Linked DNA regions of Homo sapiens: all the other regions are linked to region 3. The links come from fine-mapping of genetic effects on gene expression. A gene starts in region 3. Each other region holds a variant in brackets. All regions are shown on one strand. Distances are between the middles of the regions. Region 1 overlaps TCERG1L (transcription elongation regulator 1 like). Region 2 overlaps TCERG1L (transcription elongation regulator 1 like). Region 3 holds the start of TCERG1L (transcription elongation regulator 1 like). Region 4 overlaps TCERG1L (transcription elongation regulator 1 like).

Evidence for each region.
Region 1: its variant is fine-mapped to the expression of TCERG1L in thyroid (GTEx, PIP above 0.99).
Region 2: its variant is fine-mapped to the expression of TCERG1L in thyroid (GTEx, PIP above 0.99).
Region 4: its variant is fine-mapped to the expression of TCERG1L in thyroid (GTEx, PIP above 0.99).

What each region holds. Positions count from the first base shown.
Region 1 is chr10:131,200,102-131,205,846 of GRCh38, reverse strand. The region is part of intron 4 of TCERG1L (transcription elongation regulator 1 like); the gene reads left to right. It overlaps LOC105378563 (a long non-coding RNA gene), which reads left to right. Exons shown (of 5, transcript XR_946484.1): 4 at 1-1,328; 5 at 1,593-3,294. Among named protein-coding and RNA genes, the nearest start is that of TCERG1L-AS1, 110 kb to the right of the region's middle. The variant C/T (reference allele first, on the strand shown) is at 2,703.
Region 2 is chr10:131,167,328-131,173,072 of GRCh38, reverse strand. All of the region lies in intron 4 of TCERG1L (transcription elongation regulator 1 like), which reads left to right. Among named protein-coding and RNA genes, the nearest start is that of TCERG1L-AS1, 75 kb to the right of the region's middle. RefSeq lists an enhancer at 5,267-5,745. The variant A/G (reference allele first, on the strand shown) is at 2,935.
Region 3 is chr10:131,308,439-131,314,183 of GRCh38, reverse strand. It overlaps TCERG1L (transcription elongation regulator 1 like), which reads left to right and starts at 2,463. Exons shown (of 12, transcript NM_174937.4): 1 at 2,463-2,890; 2 at 4,885-5,031. The coding sequence starts at 2,549. LOC101927461 (a long non-coding RNA gene) reads right to left here and starts at 2,328. Exons shown (of 3, transcript XR_242763.6): 1 at 1,910-2,328; 2 at 1-50.
Region 4 is chr10:131,145,060-131,150,804 of GRCh38, reverse strand. TCERG1L (transcription elongation regulator 1 like) reads left to right here. Exons shown (of 12, transcript NM_174937.4): 7 at 4,145-4,299. Among named protein-coding and RNA genes, the nearest start is that of TCERG1L-AS1, 53 kb to the right of the region's middle. RefSeq lists an enhancer at 3,154-3,655. The variant T/C (reference allele first, on the strand shown) is at 3,268.

The DNA of each region.
Region 1 (5,745 bases), 110 kb after region 3:
TCCCACAGCCTCCCGTCTCCTGCACCCTTTGCATAAAACATCTTTTGGATAAAACAACCTTTGCAGCCTCTTAGGAAGGATGAGGTCCGCCGTGCTGAGCCTCCAAGACCAGGTGACCTCAGCAAGGTGGCTGCGGACATGCTGCCTTTCCAGGAAGTGGCAGTCAGAGATGCCAGGGTGGCCCCATGACCCCAGGCCAGGATGTGCCCTGCCAAGGGAAGGCCATGGAAGGCGGCGTTTACCTCCACGTCCCCAGGGCTGCACTGGAGCTACTTAAGAGAAGCATTTTTAAATAAAAGTTCAGCCTGTTACAAAATTCCCTAATGTGAGATACAGGCTGGAATGAGGCAATTCCACAGAGAAATCATTGTGGGAATAATTCACATCTAATGTAGTTTCATGAAGGATGCTATTTCCAGAGTCTAACTTTTTCTCCCTTTTTCTCTCACTTTTTGATTTTATTGCTGTTTTTTTTTTTTTTTACATTAGGAGAAATTGAAAACCTGTTTAGGTTTCATAGCTTCACATTTCTGAAGCAAGTGACACAGCAGAGAGTTGGGATGCATCTGATTTGTGCCTCACAATGAGGCGTGCACGTCACTGGTTAATTATGTGGCGTTCCATAAAGGAGAGCTGTTGGGATAAAAGGATGAATTGCGAGCATTAACCTTCTTTTTCCCTTTTTAAGGGGACCACTTGTCAGTCACAACGGCAGTAAAGCCAGGTGTAATGAAATTGGATTTTGGGAGAGGCTGCCATTGAGTTGATGCCATGGGCCGCTTGGTCTGGGAGAGGCTGGATTCTCAGTGCAGCCCCAGAAAGAGCCGGGTGGCAGGGGTTGAGGGCATGACAGGTCCAGGGACAGGGGCCTTAGACCAGATCCAGCTGCAGAGCACGTGAGCCCTGACCCCATGGTCAAGACCCTGGACTTCAAGCAGAAAGGCCACTGGGCTTGTGGTCAGAGATGGTGTGAACCTCCATCAAGGATCCCTTCCTCTGCCTGTTCATAAAACCGAGAGGTGGGCTCTTCTCTCCAGCCAACCTGTTCTGCCTGGGGCCAGGCTGTGAAGGGGCTGAGGGACAAGTCCACTGCCATCGGGGCCTCTCCCTGAAGGGAGTCTTCTGCCCCAAGAAACATTCTTCCCTTACCCGCAGGCTCATTGGTTTATTTTAGCCTCTAGTGGAAGGACACTGGACAGATGTCCTTTGATTTGAGGACACACACCTTTGGATCTGAGCTGGCTCCGTGCCCCACTGGAGCCCACACAGTGACTGTGGCCACCGCTGCTGGGAAGCCAGGACCCACCATCACGGACAGTTTCTCCACTGTACATGGGAAATGGCTTTGACAGGTGCTTTCTGGCATTTGGGGTGGATGGACTCATCCTCATCCCCATTTTCAAGCTGTGCATATGGAGGCCATGTAGATGCGGGGGCAGGGTGGGGGGGCAGGTGCCAGTTTCCTGAGCCTGCTTGTGGTGGGGCCATCGGGCCAGCCCACTTGCTGGTTTGTGACCTGTCTCAGTCTGTTCCCGCTCCTCTATACTCTTAGACTAGACAATTTATAGAGATGAGAAATGCTTTTCTTACAGGTCTGGAGAATGGAAAGTCCAGGACCAAGGCATCAGCAGATCTGGTGCCTGATGAGAGCTGCCAAGACCCTAGCTAGGCCCAGGCCCAGTGCTAAGCCACCAGGCTTCCAAGATGGCGCCTCCTTGCTGTGTCCTCCCATGGCAGGAGGGAGCAAGGGCTAAGAGGGCCTAGCTGGTTCCCTTCGGGCCTTCCATGAGGTCGCTCATTCCATCCATGAGGGCTCTGCTCTCATCACTTCACATCTCCTAAAGGTTTCACCTCTTCATATCGTCCTATTGGGGCTTAGCTTCCTACTTTGGGGTTTTGTGGGGACTCACGTATTCATGCCCTAGTGTGACCTAATGTGACATCACGCCTCTCCCCTCCCAGCTGGGTTGCGGTGGAGACAGCCAGCTGTCCCCTTAAGATGCCCACCCCCCACTTGGAGGAGGTCTGAAGTGGAAAGTGGCTAGGGAGGCTGCCATCACATTTCCCAGGCTGCCCCCAGGGCTAGCGCTCGCCGGCGGGATGTGAGCAGAAGCAGCAGTTAGGAGAGTGCCTTCCCCACCTCCCGGCCCCTACTGGCCTCTGGATTCCAACCTCTCTGAAACTCGGTATGGCAGGGCCACAAACCAGAAGCAGATGTGTCCCTGAATCGTTTGCGGTGACCCACATTCATCCTCATGGGAGAGACGCACCATCTTCGAATGTGAACGGTTGACATGACGGGGGCGTTTTCCCATGAGGCTGAGAAGTCCTGTGCATGCATTCCCTTAAAATAGAGACGTGAGCACCTGTGATTGGGGCCAGCTTGGATGTTCTACCAGAGGCAGTTTGCTGTCTGGTCAAAGAGGTCTTAGGGTGCTTTTTTGTCATCAGCCTCATTAAACAGTGAGCTGATCTTAAGTGACGAGACCATGAAGGTCACCACTGTGACATACTGGAAGTCTTTTTTTTTTTGAGACGGAGTCTCACTCTGTCACCCATGCGAGAGTGCAGTGGGACGTACTGGAAGTCTTAAGTGAGGTCATCTACCACCCAGCTGTGCTCTGTAACCCAGAGAGCGCAGCTCGGAGGGCTGAAGACAGGTATACGCATATCCATGAACACTGTCACTACTCCTGAGAAGG[C/T]GTCACTGCTGTCATTGAAAAGCTTTGAGGGCTGTTGTCTATGGTTCTTGAATTTGTAAGTGGAATTCCTGGCAGCTGTGTGATAAATCAAGCACATCGGTGTCGGCGTGACCTTTGACTTCTGTCCCCACAATCTGTGAACCAGAATAAACCTCTTCACTCAAACTTCCACTTAGGATGGCACCTGGTTAATATGAATCATGAAGCAATCAAAACTGAGGTGTACGTTTCCACAGACGGCAGACTTAATTATTTAAGTGTTTCTTTTTTCTAAATAAACTGTAAAAAATGAACATATTTTATTTTAAAAATGGAAACAATTTAGAAGCTTATAGAATCAAGCTCCTCCCAACCCTATTCTTCTCATATTGGAAACTTCTATTGATAATCAGATAATCAGAATATTTCCAGTGTATTCCATGCAAGCCTATGGATTCCTGAAAATGTGGAGAGGATGTTATTGACTTGAATTCCGCTACGTTACTGTTTTACTTAGCAGTGTACCTTAAAGACCAAAATGTAGTGAACTTGAAAAAATCTGTTTTTTATTTTTATTTTTTTTTGGAGATGGAGTCTTGCTCTGTCACCCAGGCTGGAGTGCAGTGGCATGATCTTGTCTTACTGCAACCTCCGCCTCCCAGGTTCAAGGGATTCTCCTGCCTCAGTCTCCCTGTATCTGGGATTACAGGCACTCGCCACCACGCCTGGCTCATTTTTGTATTTTTAGTGGTAATGGGGTTTCACCATGTTGCGCAGACTGGTCTCGGACTCCTGACCTCAGGTGATCCGCCCTCCTCGGCCTCCCAAAGTGTTGGGATTACAGGCATGAACCACCGCGCCCGGCGAAAAAGTTCCGGCCTTACCAGCTTTTGTGGTACCCCACGGTGCAGACATGCGCATACCTACTTGCTTTGGGGGCATCAGTCTGTTTCTAACGTGGGCTGTTACAATCAGTTGAGCGTGTACGTTCTCTGTGCTCCTTCATGTGGTCGGGAGGCTCACGTGCAGCTGGTGATCATGCAGTTTGGTACAACGCTTCTGGAAAGAAATGGATTAATATAAATCGAGACTCTTAATTAGTTTGTCTGTTTAACCCAGCAGTTCTGTCCATGGGACCTTTCCTAAGGAGCAGTCATCGGAAACGCATTACAGGATCTGGAGAGAACCAGCCCCCGTGACCCCCACGTGGCCCTGGGACTTGTTAGAGCTTTCTAGCATCTTTCATTGGCTCTTTCCTCGTCTCTGAGGAAGGTCGATGGATGCGCCTTCAGCACAGCGTGGTGGTGGACGTGGGGTAAAAGAGCAGCCATGTTTAGCAAAGCCGGCAGCTCTGAAAAACTCACTCACAGCTGAGCATTTAGAAGGTCATTACAGTCCCGCAGAGAAGGACGCATGAGGACATCCCACAGAATGCAGTGTAAAATTCGGAGATTAAATATAAAAAAGAAGTCCAAATGCCCAACAGCAGCAGCAGAGCAAATTGCAGTCCATGTTTTGTAGAAATATTTGGCAGCCATTGATTTATTTTATTTTTATATATTTTTTTATTTGCAGCCATTTAAATCATGCTTATTAAGAGCTTCTAAGATTGTGGCGTTTGTTAAAATAGTAAGTAAAGCAACAATTCTACATTGGCAGTGACGGGTCCATAATGAATGAATGAAACTGAAGTACTGGGACCCTCCTTTTTGGCGCCTTACGAGACCCCGGGGAACTCTTGGCGCTGTGCTCCCACGATCACGTGTCTGTGTAAAATCTGCGGATGTTCGATGGCCTCAGGAAGGCTGCTGTCTGTTCCCAGCGTGACCCTCTCTGTCGCTGTCCCTGCCTTGTGGGTGGTGGTGGAGTGTTTGTAGGTGTGGCAGGACCCAGCTGGGGGAAGGGAGGTGCTTCATTTAGTTTGAGTTTAGTGGGATGTGTTTTGGGGGCTCACTTTCCAGGGAGGCAAAGCCAGCTATGCGGGTGGTGGGCCTGACTCTCAGGAATTCTTTCACCTCTTGTGATGGTTCCAATGTGTCCCCTCCACGTTTCATGTGTTGAAACTTAGTTGCCAGTGTGATGGTGTCAAGAGGCACGGCCTTTAACAGGTCATGAGACCACAAAAGCTGCCCTCCACGTCCAAGATGGCGCCGTGATTCTGTATCCGCCCGAGGGGAGGGAGGCTGTGTCCTCACAGCACTGGCAGGAGGGGGAAAGGCAAGTGGGAGATAACCGTGCGAGAAGCCTCTTTTATAAGGGCCTCCATCCCCTTTGCCAGGGAGGATCCCTTGTGATCTAAGCGACTCCTAAAGGCCCCACCTCTTAATGTGTTCACATGACCATTAAGTTTTAACTTCTAAATTTTAGAGGGGACATATTCAATTATATTATTCTACTCTGACCCTCAAAACTTGAGTCCTTCCCACACGCAAAATACATTCATTCCATTTCAGTAATTCCAAACGTTTTAACTTGTTCTAGCATCAACTCAAAAGCGCAGAGTCTTTTAAACATCATATGAGTGAGACCCAAAGTGTGATTTATTCCGAGGAAAATTTCCCTCCAGCTGTGAGCCTGCGAAATCAAGCAAGTCATCCGATTCCAAAATACAATGGTGGAACACACATAGGATAAACATCCTGATTCCAAAAAGGAGACATAGGCAAGAAGGAAAGAGTAGCTGATCCAAAGTAATTTCAATACCCAACAATGCAAATGGCATTACATCTCGAGGTTTGAGAATCACCTTCTTTGACTCCATGTTCCAGACACAGGAGCAGGGGTTGGGCCCTCCACACTCCTTGGGGTGGAGTGGCCAGGAACTTGCATCAGACAACAGAGCTGCCAGTGCCTTGGCCTTGGACTTCTGTCCTCTGTTCTTCATAAAATACCCAGCCTCAGCTCGTTTGTCTAGCAGCACAAACGAGACTAAGGCAGAAACTGGTGCTGAGAAGTGGGCTATTGCCATAAAATATACCCAACATGTGAATGCAGCTTTAGAACCAGGAATGGGGCAGAGGCTGGAATCGTTTCAGAGTGAATGCTGGGAAAAGCCTGCATTGCC
Region 2 (5,745 bases), 140 kb after region 3:
CTAAAAATACAAAAATTAGCTGGGCGTGGTGGCGGGCCCCTGTAATCTCAGCTACTCGGGAGGCCGAGGCAAGATAATCAATTGAACCCAGGAGGCAGAAGTTGCAGTGAGCCAAGATCTTGCCATTGTACTCCAAGCCTGGATGACAAGAGCAAAACTCCATCTCAAAAAAAAAAAAAAAAAATCATTGATTATTCTCTCTACAACAATTCTGCAAGTGGATGAGACCTTATATGCTCTTGGATGTGAAACCATTCATATATGGAAATGGGGTCACTAGATTGTGACAAACACAGAAACAGGGCTCCAGTGACTCCCGGTTGGCTCCTGCCACCCTACCACCATCATGGCTGGCACAGGCCTGGGTGTTCTCCCCAAGAATGGAGGCGACTGGACAGGCGTGCATGTCCAACCAAGCAAGGCTCGCGTGAGCTGGTCTCAGGGTCTGCTCCCAGCTGCGAGCGGAGCCAGCGCGCGTGGAGCACGCGTGATATGGATGCTCCTCATGAACCCTTTTCATAATGGCTGTAGTCTACAACAATCGAGAACTCCAAGCCCTCCCAGTTTCCTCCAGCCTCAGGGGTGGTGGAGACCATCTGTGAGTCAACGCCCTCCTCAGCCTAAGAGATTTCCTGCCTAGTTCCAAGATCATCAGAGGAGGTTGGTTTCAAATGCATGAGCGGTTGCTCTCGGCTTTCAGAATAGAAAGGTGAAATTCTCTCTCCCTGTTCCTTGGGGCCCATTCACTTCCCTGGGTTCCCCTCCTCCCCCGTGGGGTCCATTCACTTCCCCGGGTTCCCCTCCTCCCCCGTGGGGTCCATTCACTTCCCCGGGTTCCCCTCCTCCCCGGGCAGGAAACCAGAAGACGCATGTTCTTACAGCCTCATGGTGAGGGCTGCAACTCCAGTTCCTTTGGGATTTACTCCACACGCTTCCAGATATCATGTTGACACTTGGAATCCCAGAACTGGAAGAGAATCAAGACAGTTTCTTTTATGGATGAGGAAACTGAGGTCAAAGGAGGTCAATATTTATGGAATTAAAATTGGACTGACTTTCAGAATTACTTTTTGCATTGGGAGATACTGATATATTTCTAATAACTTTTTGATGAGTTAGACACTTTTGACTTCCTAGAGTAGTTCTTTATTTTAATAATTTTTAAAGAAACAAACTCTTTTGAATGTTAAAATAAATTCCTGGGCCAGGCGCAGTGGCTCACGCCTGTAATCCCAGCACTTTGGGAGGCCGAGGCAGGAGGATCACCTGAGGTCAGGAGTTCGACACCAGCCTGGCCAACATGGTGAAACCCTATCTCTACTAAAAATACAAAAATGAGCCAGGTGTGGTGGCGCATGCCTGTAATCTCAGCTGCTCGGGAGGCTGAGACGGGAGAATCACTTGAAGGACAGGAGAATCACTTGAAGGTTGCAGTGAACCCACTCCAGCCTGGATGACAGAGTGAGACCCTGTCTCTAAATAAATAAATAAATAAATTCCTGATACTTCATTCAATGTAAGAAGCATTTGCTGGTCTTAGGGTGTGTGATGACTACATGGCATATGCCATCAACTGGACCCGCATCCTGGTGCTGCCTTTGAGCTGAGGCCTGACCCCAGGTGATGATGATACCTTTGAGTCTTCACCTTCCAGGCACTCTAGGAGAACAGGTGCCTCGGGCCTGGATTAATGACTGAGAAGCGCAATACGGAAAAGCTTCCAGGACCCTGACCCCGGGTCAGGCACAAGCAAACCCACCTCCCCCTTCTTTCAGGGAAACAGGGCGAATTGATTGCTGAGTTCCAAGAGTTTCTGAAGCTAAGACTTGCCCAGGAGATAGGACAGTTTTTCTTTCCACACTTTTCTTTCTTTTTTTCTTTCTTCTTTTTTTTGGTGTGTGTTTTTGTTTTTGTTTTTGTTTTTGTTTGAGATGGAGCCTCGCTCTGTCACCCAGGCTGGAATGCAGTGGCGTGATCTCAGCTCACTGCAACCTCCGCCTCCCAGGTTCAAGCAATTCTCTGCTTCAGCTTCCTGAGTAGCTGGGATTACAGGCATACACCACCATGCCCAGCTAATTTTTGTATTTTTAGTAGAGACAGGGTTTCACCATCTTGGCCAGGCTGGTCTTGAACTCTTGACCTCGTGATCCGCCCACCTCGGCCTCCCAAAGTGCTGGGATTATAGGTGTGAGCCACGGCGCCCGGCCGCCACACTTTTCTTAAAGAGATATTTTGTTGCCCGGTTTGACTTCAAGAGGCTGGTGTTGAATACTTTTCCCCTGGATGCCCTCCCCAGTCCCTGCGGCCCTTTGAGAGAGGAGGAGAGGAGTGTCTAATTGCTCACAGTACTTCCTCTCACTTCTTCCCCACCAGCAAGGACGGTCGTGCTGGACTCTATAAGAGCAGTGAATAAATGCTTGTCAGCTGACTGGCGTGGGAGTTTTTAGCACAGGCTTTTTTGCTTCCTTCCAGACTTCATGCGACCTTCTCAGTTCTCTTTGTCTCTCATCACTGCCAGGAGGAAAATTACATTGAAGGGCACTGGGGAGCTGGGGAGCACTTCACATCTCAGAGCTGGGTTTGATCAATAGAGGCATTGCCCAGAAAGGTATTACCGCCGTGCCTCTCTCGGAGGGCGGAAATACATTGCATGCTCCCCGAAGTACTTTAGCGCCCATGGTCTTACACTTGTTGATTTTCCTCCATAAACTAGTTCTGTCTGCCACTCAAGGGAGGAGTTTATGACAACATCATCAGAGTTTGTGGAGAGGCCCAAAGCAAAGAGTACTTAAGCATGTCAGAGTGGACCCTGGAAGTGGCCCCCGGAGAGCCGTAGAATAAGCACTTCCACGGTGGAATGGCTGACACGCAGACCCAATTATGTGTGTGAGCCCCTGGTGCCACCCACACACCTCCAAGGTACCTGCAAAATCA[A/G]TGACTGTGAAAGAGTGCCGGTTATTAAGAAAACTATTTAGGGCAAGGCACAAACATTTGTCGCAGGTATTCCGGGGTGTGTGTCTGTGACTGGGGGCTTTAAAATGATCATCAACAATATCTCCTCTAAGAAGCACTCATGAGGAACAATGTAAATCCGTTTATCTCAAAAGCCAGACTTTAAGATCTGATTTTTTACAAGATCAACTGTTTTCAATATGAAAAATATCTTAATATGTTTTCTCAAGGTAATGGGGAGTAAACTAGGCAATGCTGTCATTTGAGAACAGTATTATGGGCTTACGGCCTCCTCGCAGGCTGCCAGTGTTCCTAACACAGTTTTTCACAATGTGTATTTATTTACATGCTCGTAGAAGATACAGACGTGCATTTCTGCTACTGAGATTGCTGTGTGTTTTATAGGCACCTGCCATATTGAAAACATAGAGTGTGTGGCATATAATTAAAACACAACCTCAGCTTTCCGTGCACGACCCCTCCAGACTTCCTCCCTGGGACTTGCTCTTTGCTGTACTTTAGATAAAATTTAAACCAATTCACTTTTGGCTCATTCTTAGGTAGTAAAAAGCCATCCACTCATATCCAGTCAAAAAATAGGTCTCAGAGCAGTCGTGAAATATGTGGAGTGCTGGGTCATTGAATCACCAAGTTTAACTTCCCTCGTCCCATCGCTTGGGCCTGCTTTGCGTTGGGTCTGTGAGGGCAGGGGAACGGTGGGCTCAGCTTCCTTTGTGTGCCCCCTTGTGCCTCAGTCAGGGGGCTGCTTCTGGTGTCTGCAGGATGGAGGCAGAGGGACAGAGCCCTGGGTTTTTTAATGAGGGTTCCCCAGGGCATGGCTGTGTCCCCATCTGCTTGCCCCTTTCTGTGGCATAGAGGTAGTGACCAGCTAATCCCATCTTGTAGATGAGGAGGCAGAGATGGGGTGGGGACAGGACGACCCTGCAGGATCAGGACAGAGACCCGGTGTCCAGGCTGCTTGATGACCGCTGCACCTTGACAAGAATGGGCTCTGGGAGTAATTCTTAACAGAGTTCCGGAAATCTTAATGCAATCCAGGGACTCTGCTTCTCTTCCTGAGTGACAGTAAAATATTTCCACTGTCCTGAAATCTTTTCTTGACTCAGGCTTGGTTACCTGGTTCAGTGAAAAGCCGATAGTCCCTTCCCCAAGGCCAACCTTGAAATAGACCTGTGCACGCAGCTGTCAGGCCTGAGGGCGTCTCTTGGGGTGGTCATGGCTGTATGGGAGCCCTGTGGTCGGCCTTGGCAGGCCTCTTGTGAAGGAAGAGTGTGCAGTGTAGACTCTGTGTGGACACCCTCGTAAAGTGGCAATGACGGAGGAGGCCGGCGCCCTCAGGGATCCCTGCTCAGCCTATTTGCCAGCAGCCGGCACTAAGGGCAGACCAGCCACCCAGCCCTGGGGAGAGCCTGCCCGGCAGGGCGCTGTGCAGAGTGAAAGAGGTGGACAGGCTGGGCATTCCTCCACCCGCTCACTGGATGGAGGGGAGTCAGGGGTGGAATGCTGTGTTTCTGCCTCATCCGAACTCAGCACCTCCGGGGATGGGGCCTCCGGCTCACGTCTGGGCTGCCTTAGTGTTGCTGCTCCGCACCTGAAATAAATTTGCTGATTGACCCAACTCAAATGAGGGGCTTCCTCCCAAGGGTGCTGGGGAGGGATGCCTTGCAGACCACCTGGCTCTGCAGCCGCAAGCCAGACAGGTGCCAATGCCCACGGAGGACATGACAGCTGGCCCCATGCAGAGCTATGCAAATCTCCTTCCCGGAGCTGCAGAGGGGCCCCAGTTTGCAGTGGGGCAAGGAAGAAAGGCTAGAAGGTGGGGTGTGCCAGTGGGACCCCCAGTCTTGCCTTTCACCCCCTTCAAGCACAGACGTGTAGCTTGAAGGGGCCAGAGGACATCCTTTCTATGTGTGTGTGTGCATATACGCACCTGTGTGTTGTGTGCACACACGTATAAAGTGATTTACGTTAATTCCCCATCCTTCCGTCTACCAGGAAGGAGCATACCCAGGCCTCCCTGACTGCACTGCCCAGTCTTGAGCTCTGGATCAAGCTAAACAAATCTCTGCTTCCCAAGGGTCCTGCCCTGCACACCCATGAGACCTGGCCAGGGCTTTCCTTTGAGAACTTATCTATTGTTTTAGGTTGGTGTGTGGTTAGATGGTTTGGGTCCTTCTTTTTATTCTTGGTATTAAAACAGAGCTCAACCTTGCTTTACTGTTTTTCCCTGAATCTACTTGCAAAATTTTGAGAGTTAGATAGACATTTTTGGAGAAGACAAAAAAGTAACAATCTTTGGGAATTTGCAGAATCCCTTCCTCCCCTGAAACAAGCACCTTTCCAAGTGCTGTGGGTCCGGCCCCCTGGAAAAACCAGGGCCCACCATGGCGGCCAGTAAGCCACGGTCACTGGCGGTGTGGCCTGCACATAGCCCCTCCTGTCCCCTTGGCAGGGCCAGGACCAAGGGCAGCCCATCATGGCCACCAGCTGGCAGAACCTCAGCAAGGCTGGTTCTGTTGTCCTACACTGGCCCTTTGTCCTTCTTGGGAAGGTCCTGTGTCCTATTCATCTGTGACCCACGTGGCCCAGTTCACAAGGCTTGGCCAACAGTGTTTTAGATGGCACCCAGCCTGGGCATAGATGGAGTCCAGGGCGCAGGTTGGCATCACTGGAGGAGGCTCCTGACTGCCCAGCGCACTGGGGGCCCCACAATGCGAGAGAGCAGCCCCAAGACATCCACACACCTGGGCACAGCACTCCCACCCTGGGCCC
Region 3 (5,745 bases):
TCAAGATGTACAAATGACATTTGCAGAACCGGTTCATGGAGGCGGTCCTTCTAAACAATCATTGAAATGAGTGTATCTATGAGGGGGCTTCTCCTATCCATGAGGGTGTAGAAGGTTCCCGGGTTAAACGGGATGAGAGGCAAACCTTGAAAAGAATCTGACAGAAATGAGAGCCAGGAGGAGGGGGAGAAGCCCTGTGCTGGGTCCTTGGCCCTAGCAACGATTAGTGGAAATGGCCGTGCCTGCGTCGTTGAGGGCTGTTTTCCCATAATTTAGCACACAGAATGGTACAGAAAAGGGCTCCCAAGCATTGTCATACAAAAGGAGAGTCAAGCTTGTGGCAGGAAATAGCAAGAGTTTAGGCCGCTTTGTGGTTGAGTCAAGAGCTGCTTTCGACTTTCCAGCTCTTCTTCAGAGCCAAGTAGTGGCTCAAGGGGTCCTGAGCTCAGAGCATCAGGAAGCCCGGAGGGGTGCTGGCAAAAACGGACTTCAGCAGAACCCTTTCTAGGACAGTGGGGATGGGGCTGGGATTCCCCAAAGGAGTGCTACAGCTCCCACAGACTGTGGCCAACCCTACCTTCCCAGGAACCTGGGGGCCACACACGCAAAACCCTGCTTTTGCAGAGAACAGCATGCAAGCCAGGCACGAGCACCCCTGGCCTTCTGTCTCTGCCTCCAAGCAGAAGGAAGGAGAATCTCCTGTGCAAAAGGGACTATGCGGTGGGGGAGGTGGGGGGTGGCAGGGGCATGTGAGCCTGCCTGGAGACGCCTCCCCAATATCCTGATCTGGCTCTGACCATTAAACTAACACATTTATAACACATGTGCACATACTAATATATGCACATAAATTAAGGGTGTAAGTGAATAGTAACAGCCTTCTAATGTGCAGAGCTTTCTGATTTTAGGTGAATAAAAAAAATGCCAGTACTTTTGCATCAAAGAGAGAGATAAACTTGCTAATTGAAAACTGGTTTTCGTGGAGGAAAATATGGAGGCGCCAGCTATGTAAATCAGCATATGCCCAGATCTAAAAGAAATCAGGCCAGGCCAAGAGGAAATTAAGCAAATCAGGATAATGAGGAAACAACCCTAGACGCAAATTAAAAGCACTCGGGTGCTTTAGGCCATCTCAGGAGGTTGGCAGTGGACAGGTGGGAGGTGATGCGAACACGGGTTTGGAGTACCAGGCGTGTCAGTGCCGCTGGGTGGGTGGGTGCCTGCTCTCCCACCCAGGTCAGGGAGGGTTTTTCATGCAAGTTCTTAAATGCATGGATCATAATGCTGCCTTTTGCATCCAGAAAGACCCTTCAAATGCCTCTAACAACACTGGTCTCGCGCTGGCATTAGCTGTGCTTGGGTTTCCTGGGTTTAGCGACCTAAGGGGTTTACAGCGCACGGAAGTCTCTGCCCAGCTGTCAGCGCGCGTCGCCAGGGGCTGCACTGAAGCTGTGGACCCGGGATGGGGAGGAGGCTGGCGGCCTCCGAAGCAGGGTCTACAGCGGGGGAGGGCTAGCGCCGTCTGGCGGTGGCTGCGCGTGGCCAGTGCGGACCCAGGCTCGGCTCGGCCGGCGCTGCCTGCGTGTGGTCCGGGCGGAGCGAGGGTCCTTGGAGCCCGGTTCGTCCTGGGTCCCAGGAAGCTCGGCGTGCAGCGTCAGAGGCCGCGTGTGCTGGGGGAGGGAGGAGTACAGACTGTGCCTGGGGGCATCCAGGACGAATTCACAGAGGGGTGGTCCTGCCCCACCCAGGGGGTGTCGTGGGCAAAGGCCCTGGGGCCACCTGCCTGGTGCCTTGGAGGGCGTAGGGCAGGAGCCGCCGAGGCCCGCGGGCCACTGTGGGGCGCGGAACTTCAGACCAGGCACCCGCGGCTCAACTTCCGGGCCAGGGGACCCGCGGGGGCCTTACGAACCTGTTTGGCCCATTTGTGCAACAGAAATCCGCCCGCGCCTAGCAGCGTCCGGGGCCGCCTGCGCCGGATCCGCAGCCCAGTACCCTCCGCGCCCTGGACTCCGAGGAGGCCAGGTAGAGAGCGGCTCGCGCGGTCCCCGTCTGCGCCCTCAGCCCCGCGCTGGGCAGCGGGACATGCCTGGCTCCGGCGCCGCCACCTCGGCTTCCGCTTGCCCTTGAGTGCGGAGCCCGGAGCCTCCCTCGCGGTGCGCTGGGTCCCAGAGGGCCAGAGGCCACCAGGGGGCCGGCATCGGCGGGAGCCCAGCCGGGCGCGCCCTCGGCCCTCTCCCACCCACGTCCTCCGCGGCCGCCCGGGTCCAGGGGCGCAGCGGGGAGGAGACCCCGGCCAGGGCCGGGGAGCGCGAGGGCGGGGCGGGGTCCGGCGGGGAGGGGCGCGGGCGGGCGGGGACCGGGGCGGGGGCCGGGTCCGGGGGCGGCGGCGGCGCGGGCGGGAGGAGGAGGAGCTTCCCGCGCGGGGCAGGGGCGGAGCGAGCGGCCGCGCCGCGGAGCCAAGTGAGTTCGCTCCGGAGCCGCGCCGCCGCCGGCCCAGCATCTCGGGCGCCCGCCGCCCCCGCCGCCGCCGTCAGCGCGGGGATGTAGGATGCAGGCGGGCGCCAGGTTCCAGCGGCGGCGGCGGCAGCTGCAGCAGCAGCAGCCCCGGCGGCGGCAGCCTCTCCTCTGGCCGATGGACGCAGAGCCGCCGCCGCCGCCGCCCTGGGTCTGGATGGTGCCGGGCTCGGCCGGGCTGCTCCGGCTCAGCGCGGGGGTCGTGGTTCCCCCGGTGCTGCTCGCCTCGGCCCCGCCGCCCGCGGCCCCGCTGCTCCCCGGTCTCCCCGGCTGGCCGGCCCCGAGCGAGCCGGTGCTCCCGCTGCTGCCGCTGCCCTCTGCGCCAGACTCCGCCGCCGCCGCCGCCGCGCACCCCTTCCCCGCGCTCCACGGGCAGGTAACGTGTCCCCGTCCCGCCTCGGCCCGGGTCGCCGTCTCCCCTGCTCCTGGGCGCGCCCTGCCCGGCCCGGCTCTGGCCTCCGGCTCGCGCGCCCTCCTCCCCGGCGGTCCTCGCCGCCCCAAACCCTCAGGACGGAGCCCGGCAGCCGTGCCTCGGCGAGAAAGTTCGTGCTTGGACGCCCGGTCGTCCACCTCCGCAGCTTTGGCAGGTGCCTCCGGGTGTCTGGACGGAGCCGTGGAGGGACCCGCCGCCCAGGCCCGCGTGGGGACCGCAGGGAACTCGCGCCACGCCGGGGGTCACTGTCCATCGCGAGGTGCTGAAGTGGCTCCGTGACCGCCGCGGGCCGTGGCTGACATCGCGGAGAAGTTAGGACTTTCACAGTCTCTGCCAGACTTGAAAGCAAGCTGGAAATCGATAGCTGTTTCAGCTGTTTCAGATTCTAATCTGGTTTGGGTTTTTCCCCCTTTCATTTGAAAATAGACTCAGGGCAATGCTTAAGAGAATTCCAACCGACGGAAGTGGCCGGGAAATCCTGCCTTCGGTACTGAGGGATGTTACCGGAGATTCCCCTGCCCCAGGCCTGCCGGAGTCCACCACATTCGCTAATGCCACACTGCACTTTAGAACTAGAGTTTGGCTTTTAAGACATGGGATTAAAAAGAAAAAGTGACTGAACCTTTGATAAATGGTGCAGCAGAGCTAGGCGGGCTGGTTTGGGCAAGATTCATTGTCAGCTAACTATGCAGATGCATTTAAATCAGGGAATAGCGTGCATTTTATTCCAAGGATTGACCTCATTAGCATATTCAAACGGGTGTTATGTTAGAATACACCATTTGATTAATTTAATTCCAATATTATCTTGTGAGCTTTTCTAAAAGATGTTGTTAAACTCCTGCTAAATTGGTCTTTAGACTTAATGATACATCACATATGCAGCACTGGATATTGTATTTTTATGTGTGATGCAGTTTATTTTGGATTTTATTCAAGAAACGTTGGTAGTTTTTGCCGTATTTTGGAGGGGTGTTATATCAGAGTGCTGCCACTAGAGGTATATAATGTCAAGGAACTACATTTTTTAAATTCTGCTTTAAAAAACTGCATTTTTTCACTTATATAAATTTAAAAGAAAATTTAAAAAACCTTAGCATTAATCTTTTAAATATTTTTGTGCTACCCAGCTTCTGTAAAGTAAGAATATGTACAACCAGAAGAACATTTTCATGTAACAGGAACATCACAAATGCTTTTACGATTTTAAAACAATAGGTACTGAAACGTTCCATGTCATTGAGCAATGCATTTTATTAGTGCCTTATGAGGTCTCAGTTATTTTAATTAGAGAGACGGTGCCCTGAATTACCAGCCCCTTTCCATGACTGATGTTTTATTCTGTGTATTGAGATCTTCAACTTAGAAGATGCTTAGTTTTTTTTTTTTTTTTTTTTTTTTTGCCATAGAATCTATTTGTATTGGTGAACCTTGTATTGGTGAAACTTGGAATCTTAACTTCCTAGATATTTTCATTTTGAAAGTATTAGTTATTTGTAAAACGACAAAAGTAATTAATACAAAATGCAATGCTGAAAGGAATATTATAAAATATAGCCCTAAGCCTGCCTATAAAAATAATTTAAGAATTAGAAAAGGAATACCCAGCATTTCTCTTCTTCATGGTGATTTCTCATTATCTCAGAGCAGAAACCCATTTCTTACTGCGTGCTTGTGGTTTTGTGCTTAGAAGTTCTTTTTCAGTATTGAAGAATGCAATGTTGGTAATGCTTTGTGATGATTCAGATATGAAAACTTCTATAATTTTTTCTTTGATTGGTACATACTTATAGTTTTTCTCGAGGAAATTTATCTGATAATCAAATACATACATTTTGAAATTCCCTTTTCAAAGCAGTTATTCCAGCATGTTTTGGCATGAAGTCGAGTGGATGGATTCAGGCTAATGCAGCTGTCTTTTCTTGCTTGGCTTGCAGTGGCTGTTTGGTGGCCATTCTCCGTCCCTAGGACTGCCCCCCTCTTCCACAGTGGAGCTGGTGCCCGTCTTCCCACATCTCTGCCCTTCTGCTCTTGCAACCCCTATTGGGAAAAGTTGGATAGACAAAAGGATTCCTAACTGTAAGGTAAAAACGCAAGTGATTTAATTGGATAAGGGGCTTTTAATGATTAAGTTGTCGAACATCGACATAACAACAAAAATACCCATGTATTTTCTTGTTGCCATAAATTGGCCATCTAGGTATAGAAATAAATCATTTCAGGATTAGATTGATTTGTTCAAAAATATCAGCTGGTGGGGGGCATTTTGTTTTAGTTTAGGATATTTGGATTCCACAGGGCAATGTAAAATTTCCAATTTTTGAATCAGAGTCTTTTTTAAAATTTTTTTGTTTTTAAATTTGTATCCATTGATCAAAAATCTAGACTTGAACATTACACAATACCAGTTGAAGTTTTAAAAGTCAGTTTTTCTTCATATGATGCTTTAAGTTTTCATCTTTCTAATGGTTTGTTTTGGCTTTCGGGTTCAAATTTACTGACTACATTTTGTTCACAAGGAAACTAAAGAAGTAAAGTATTGACTTGTCATACAGCTTAGTCATTATCTCATTGGGGTGATTCTTCAATCAGTGAACTGAACTGCTGGGCTGAAGTGACCAAGTCAATAGTTGAAGGCCAGCCCAGAAGACATTAGCTAGATGGTGATCGGTATTGAAGCCCTGTGGAACTTCTTTAAGTTTTAGAATGATGGTTTTATAGAGTCCCCAATAATAGAATGTTCAATGTTGGATCAACGTAAGGCAACACAAATATTTTCATGGTCATGCTCAGCTTTT
Region 4 (5,745 bases), 160 kb after region 3:
GTATCTCCTTACAGCAATGTGAGAATGGACTCATACAGCCACTGACCTGCCCTCAGCCTAGCGCAGGATGACAGGAGATCCACGTGTGCTATCGGGGCCCAAAGTTGAAGTCCTGTTTCTCTTAAACTCTGCAGTGGGCAGAACAGAGCTCTTGCTGGTCCCTGCCAGGAAATGGGTCATCCTCTCACCTCTTTCAGCTTCTTCTTCCCCCAGTCCTCTGGCCCTCAACTGGCTCAGGGCTCACCCCTGGGTGTTCAGGAAAGCTGGCGAGTTACCAAGTTAGGAAAGCTCCCCAAGCCAGTGGGAGGGTTGGGATTGGATGGGGCCACTCAGCCAGTCTGAGCCTGTGTCCCGAGGCCTCTGGCTTCCGGATAATTCTCCCGTGGCCCTGTTGCTTGTGGAATGCAGTATGAATGCCTGACACTGTGTGCACCTAGCAGCTCTTAGTGAACTGGAGATGCCTCAGTGAGCATCTGGCCCCTGGCTGAGTATCCCCACACTTCAGTGACTCTAGAGGAGCACACAGGTCCCCCCACCTCTGGGTGAGGCCGTTGGAGGCTGGGGGCCAGATGGCCTCCTGCCAGAAACATGGTGCTCAACAGGTCCATCTGCTGTACCCAGGTCACAGGAAGTTGTTCTGTGCTCTCCAGGTGAGGTCAGGCTCCTGGTGAGACCTTCATGGGTTTACACAACAGGTTTTAAGTCTTAAGTTGCTAGAGAGGAACACAGAGAGCCAAGGACGCTTCTAGGATTTGCCACTCAGACCAGTTGCAGCAAAACATCATGAAAAAACATCCCAAGCAATACTGTTAGAAATGGGCCCTCTTGCTGCTGGGAGCTTCAGGCTTGGGGCTGCCTTTCCAGCCACTGTCCAGTCATGGAAGCTTCTGAAGCCCTTGAGGGGCCGGATCTGGGCTTCCTCTGGTCCTGACATGCTGGGCATGAGACATACAGCATGAGGAGGCGGGCTCAGGGTTTCTTCACTCCCTGCACCCCCGCTGGCATCAGGGTCTCATCGATGAGTCTAGCTGCATTCCTTGCAAGAGGGGTGCCTGGAGACAGAGCCCAATGTCGCAGTAGTAAAACTGTCCACGTCCTACGTGTTGCCAAAGAGCCCAGGCCTCGTGGGGAGCTAATAATAGGCTCTGCCTGTGGCCCACTCACTCACAGCTCCACCCGGGAAGCAGGTCATCACCAGGTCTGCGTCTGGAGGAAAGGAGTCAGTCTCTACCCTGGGCTTATGTTCCCTATTGGCCCATGCTGTCTGCAGAGTTCATATAGTAGCTGAATTGTGCATAATTTACAGCACAGTGTGGTTACCTTCAGCTTTAGACTCAATAAAAACTTCCTATGCTAGCCGGGTTCTGCACCATAAATGCATACCCACAGCCTCCCTGCAGGCCCCAGAGGTCAGGTATCCCTGGCCTGGGCTTGCTGGGGACAATGGTCTGCCTGATCTGAGAGCAGGAAGGGATCCAGCTACCTGGGTGTGGAGTCTGCTGTAGTTGGCCAGCCTCATTTTCCAGCCTCCAGCATGGGCCTGGGCAGCACCCCACGGGCCCATGAGCCCGCTCCCCTGAGGGCAGGACCTGGCATGGGAGTGTGATACACTCTATCTTGGTCCATTTCCCTAGTTGGGTGGACTGTCCAGATAAAGCAAATTCCCATTCCACCCCCCATCTGAAGGGTTGAGGGCATGAGGCCACCAGCGAGGGGAGGCGACCTTCTCAGGGTCACCTGGTAGGTCAAGGGCAGGGCTGGAGCTGGAAAGTTTGCCAGGCAGAAGGGCAGGTCATATTCTCCCACATGGATGACCAGGCCAGCTGTGGCCAAGGCCTCCAGGCACAACACTTGGGGTTCAGGTCAGGGCTCCCAGATGCTGGTGCTCAGGACAGAGTCGCCCCGAGGGGGAAGCCCATTGATTCGTCTCCCACAGACTCAGGGCTCCAGCGACACACATTGATTCTCTTACAGTTGGGAGGATCAGAAGTCTGACACAGGTCTCACTGGGCGAAAGTCAAGGTGTGGGCAGGGCTGGATCCTTCTGGAGCCTATGGGGAGGTCCATTTCCTGCCTTTTCCATCTTCCAGAGGCCCCTGCAACCCTGAGCTCGTGATTCCTTTCTCCAGCCTCAAGGCCAGGCATCTCCCGATCTCTGTCTCTCCGTGTGTGTGTGCATGTGTGTCTCTGTGTGTGTCTACGTGTGCATGTGTGTCTGTGTGTCTGTATTTGTGTGTATGTGTGTTTCTCTGCATGTGTGTGTCTCTGTGCATGTGTATATGTGTGCATTTGTGTCCCTTTGTGTGTGTATATATGTGTGCATGTGTCTGTGTATGTGTCTGTGTGTGTTTATGTGTGTATCTCTGCATGTGTGTGTCTCTGTGTGCATGTGTGTCTCTGTATATCTGTGTGTTTATGTGTGTGTCTCTATGTCTGTGTGCATGTGTGTCTCTGTGTGTCTGTTTGTGTGTATGTGTGTTTGTGTGTGTCTCTGAGAGTGTGTTTGTGTGAAACACCTCTGCCTCCATCTTCCTATCTCTTCCTCACTGATCTTCCCACCTCCCTCTTAGAAGGACCCTTGTGATTACATTTGGGGCCACCTGAATGACCAGGCTATTCCCCCATCTCAGGGTCCTAATCCCAACTGTACAGACCCTTTGCCATGTAAGGTGATGCACACCTGTTCTAGGGATCAGGACGTGGACGTCTTTGGAGCCATCATTTTGGCTCCCACACTCATGAGCGTGGCTGGGCTGAGTAGTGGAGCCGGCACACCTTCTCAGGGTGATTTCTGGGAGGGGTCCTGGTCTGCCCAGGGTTGCCAACATGCAGGGCCCCAGGCCCTGAGCCCTCTGCCTGGCCCATGGAACGTGCCTGGGTGAGTGAAGTGTGGAGTGATTTTCTGCATGCAGAACAGAGTGGCTTCTTTTGGCACGAATCCCCAGCTCCTCCCGAACCTGTGCGAGGCTGGCGGGAGTGAGGCGTGAGTGGGCTACCGGGGGCCTAGGCCGTGCCCGACAGTACCCCCAACAGGTCGGGGGCCTCCCTCGGGGAAGTCAATAGCTAGAGGTGGGTATGTGGGTGTTCCCACCCATTCACTCCTGCACATCTGAAAAGTCCCAGGAGACTTGCGGAGCCAGAGGGACCTTCTGAAGTCACTGCAGGAAGCCGAGGCCCAGAGAGGGGAGGGGGCTTGCCCCAGGGGAACCTCCTGGGAGGTCCACACCTGGAACGGGCCTCGGTGCCAGCACAGGCCTCAATCTCTAA[T/C]AGCACCCTGACACGACTTAGGGGTTAAACCCAGAGCCCCGGCCGGCCTTGCTGGCCTTTATCTGCCGCGCTTGCTCGTGGGGACAGCGCGGGGTCAGAGTGTCAGAGTGCAGAGTCTCCCGTGCACCTCCATGCCGCAGGCTCCCGGACCCGCATTCCTTAGGGAGGGACTTTTTTCCTTTCCTTCCCTCTCATTAATTTTCTTCTCTTCATTTTTTTTTCTTTTTAATCTTTTCTGATAACTTTTCACAGATAAGGGGCTTAAAAAGGGCACATAATTCCTTTTAGATGTCTTCAGTTTCCATAAATGAAAATACAAATCTTCCTTATTTGCCCATCCACAAATGAGCAGGACACCGGGGCTGTGGTTGCTAATGACAGCAGCCCTTTTAATTCTGCTGCTGCCGGAGGGTAATGACCTGTGGCCGTGCGCATTGCTTGATGGCCATGCAGAGCTCAACTGGGGAAGTGTAGGGAGCCGCTCTCCGAATTACTCTATTGCCGGAACCAGGGCCAGGAGGCGCCCCAGAGTGCTCTGCATCTGGAATGGAATTTCACTGAGGCAGTGACAGCTGGTGGGCTGGAGAGAGCTCTGCCTGCCTGTGACCTTGATGAGCTGCTTGGCTTCTCTGAATGTTGTTGTTCTCCCTGGTCTAAGGCTGGTGATAAGAATGTCTACCTGTTAATCAAATGAGTCAGATCCGTAAGGTCACCTAAAAAGGCAGGCTTTGTCTTTAGTATTCATACTATCCATAAACAAGCTTTGCAAATGTGTGGATTTCGGTCCTGAGGGGCTTTTTCAGTGAGAGTTCATGCTAACGACTTTCTAATTAAGTGTCTCCGAGAGCGACTGAGATGAGTTTTTCCACTCAAACAGGTGTGTGGTCTGGACGGGCGATGACCGAGTTTTCTTCTTCAACCCAACGATGCACCTGTCTGTCTGGGAGAAGCCCATGGACCTGAAGGACCGCGGAGACCTCAACAGGATCATTGAGGACCCGCCCCACAAACGCAAGCTGGAGGCACCAGCAAGTAACTAAGCCCTGGGTTATTTACACCTCCTTTGAAGTGTTTAAGCTGCTTATTTCTAATGAACGTAAAGTGAAAGCATGTTTCTTCTTGGTTATGTTGAAAATTGACTATTAAGGAATCCTGTGCCCGATTGCAGAGTTTAGTAATCAAGTTTTTATGGCACTTCCTGCAGAAACCTTGATCCTTCCAAGCGGTCGGCTCTGGCTGTCTTTTTGCATCACGTAAGGTGATTAACGCAGAGATGGCCATTCATTCCCTCCGCCCCTCAAAGCTTCCATCCAGCATCACTGTTACCCAGCATTTTATTCTTGTTCCAAATGTCTTATGAACGCCACTTCAGAGACCAGATGTACGCAGATGGGAGTGTGTTTTCTTCCACCTTACATTCACTTTAGACCTTTGCAGCACATTGATCTGCTGTTGTGCTTGGATGGATGCCTCAATTCCATAAAACCCTGGTCACGGACAGGGGAAGAGATTTTCTTCAGCTGCAGAGGAATGGGGTGCTTGGCAGAGGCAGTTGTTTCTGACAATGCCTGTAAATCTTGTTTCGCCAAGAAACAGAGAGGAACTTTCAGCATTTTCACAAAGGATCTTTTCCGATTAGATCTAATACATATTTTATTAGCTGCTGCGTGGGGAAAGCCCTCCTCCCAGAGCATGTGGATTCAAACGGTCTTGACTCCACTGCAGACATTTGAGAGCAGGAGCTCCCTGCCAACTTGAGAGGCAGAGATGCCTGGCTACAAGGCCAGGCCAGTGAAAGGGGAGCTTGACTCTTTGTTTTAGTTTTGTGTGGTATTCTATTGGGTTCTTAGTGGCATTTTTAATTTCACGTCATTGAGGGCTAATGCTAGATGATGGTAATTCACACTTTGTGTCAAATCCAGAGGTATTTGACTGAAGCTTCAGAAGACAGTATTATAAAAGTTTTATCAGCATTTTTAACCATGCTAAGAGACATGGTGGTAGTCTTTTAAGATTGAGACATCACACATTTAAAATGTTTATTCCATTTAAAATAGTAACAGCATTATCCAGAGACTGGATCAACTGATGTTGGGAAAAGAAAAATCTCCAAGGTCCATATGGAGTTGAGTCTGTAAAACGTTGCTGTATTTACAGACAATGAAGATTGAATTTGGCAATTGCATTTCCTCCTTTGATCAGGTCACATTCATTATTAAAAGAGGGCCTTGTACGTCTTGAAAGAGTGCTTTAAAATCATGACAGGAAGCACCCTTTCAAGGTTCTTACTCATGGACAAGAAGATGGTGCACAGTTTAGGGAAATCAGGACACCCTCAGATCCCACGGGAAACATTAAGGCACAGTTTGTCCTAACAATGATTTTATTTGCTTGGCAAAGGCAGATCATGCTGGCAGATTCCTCACTCCTTTCTTTAGCTTGCGTTCTTGTAGATAATTTGGTGCTGTTTCATTTTTC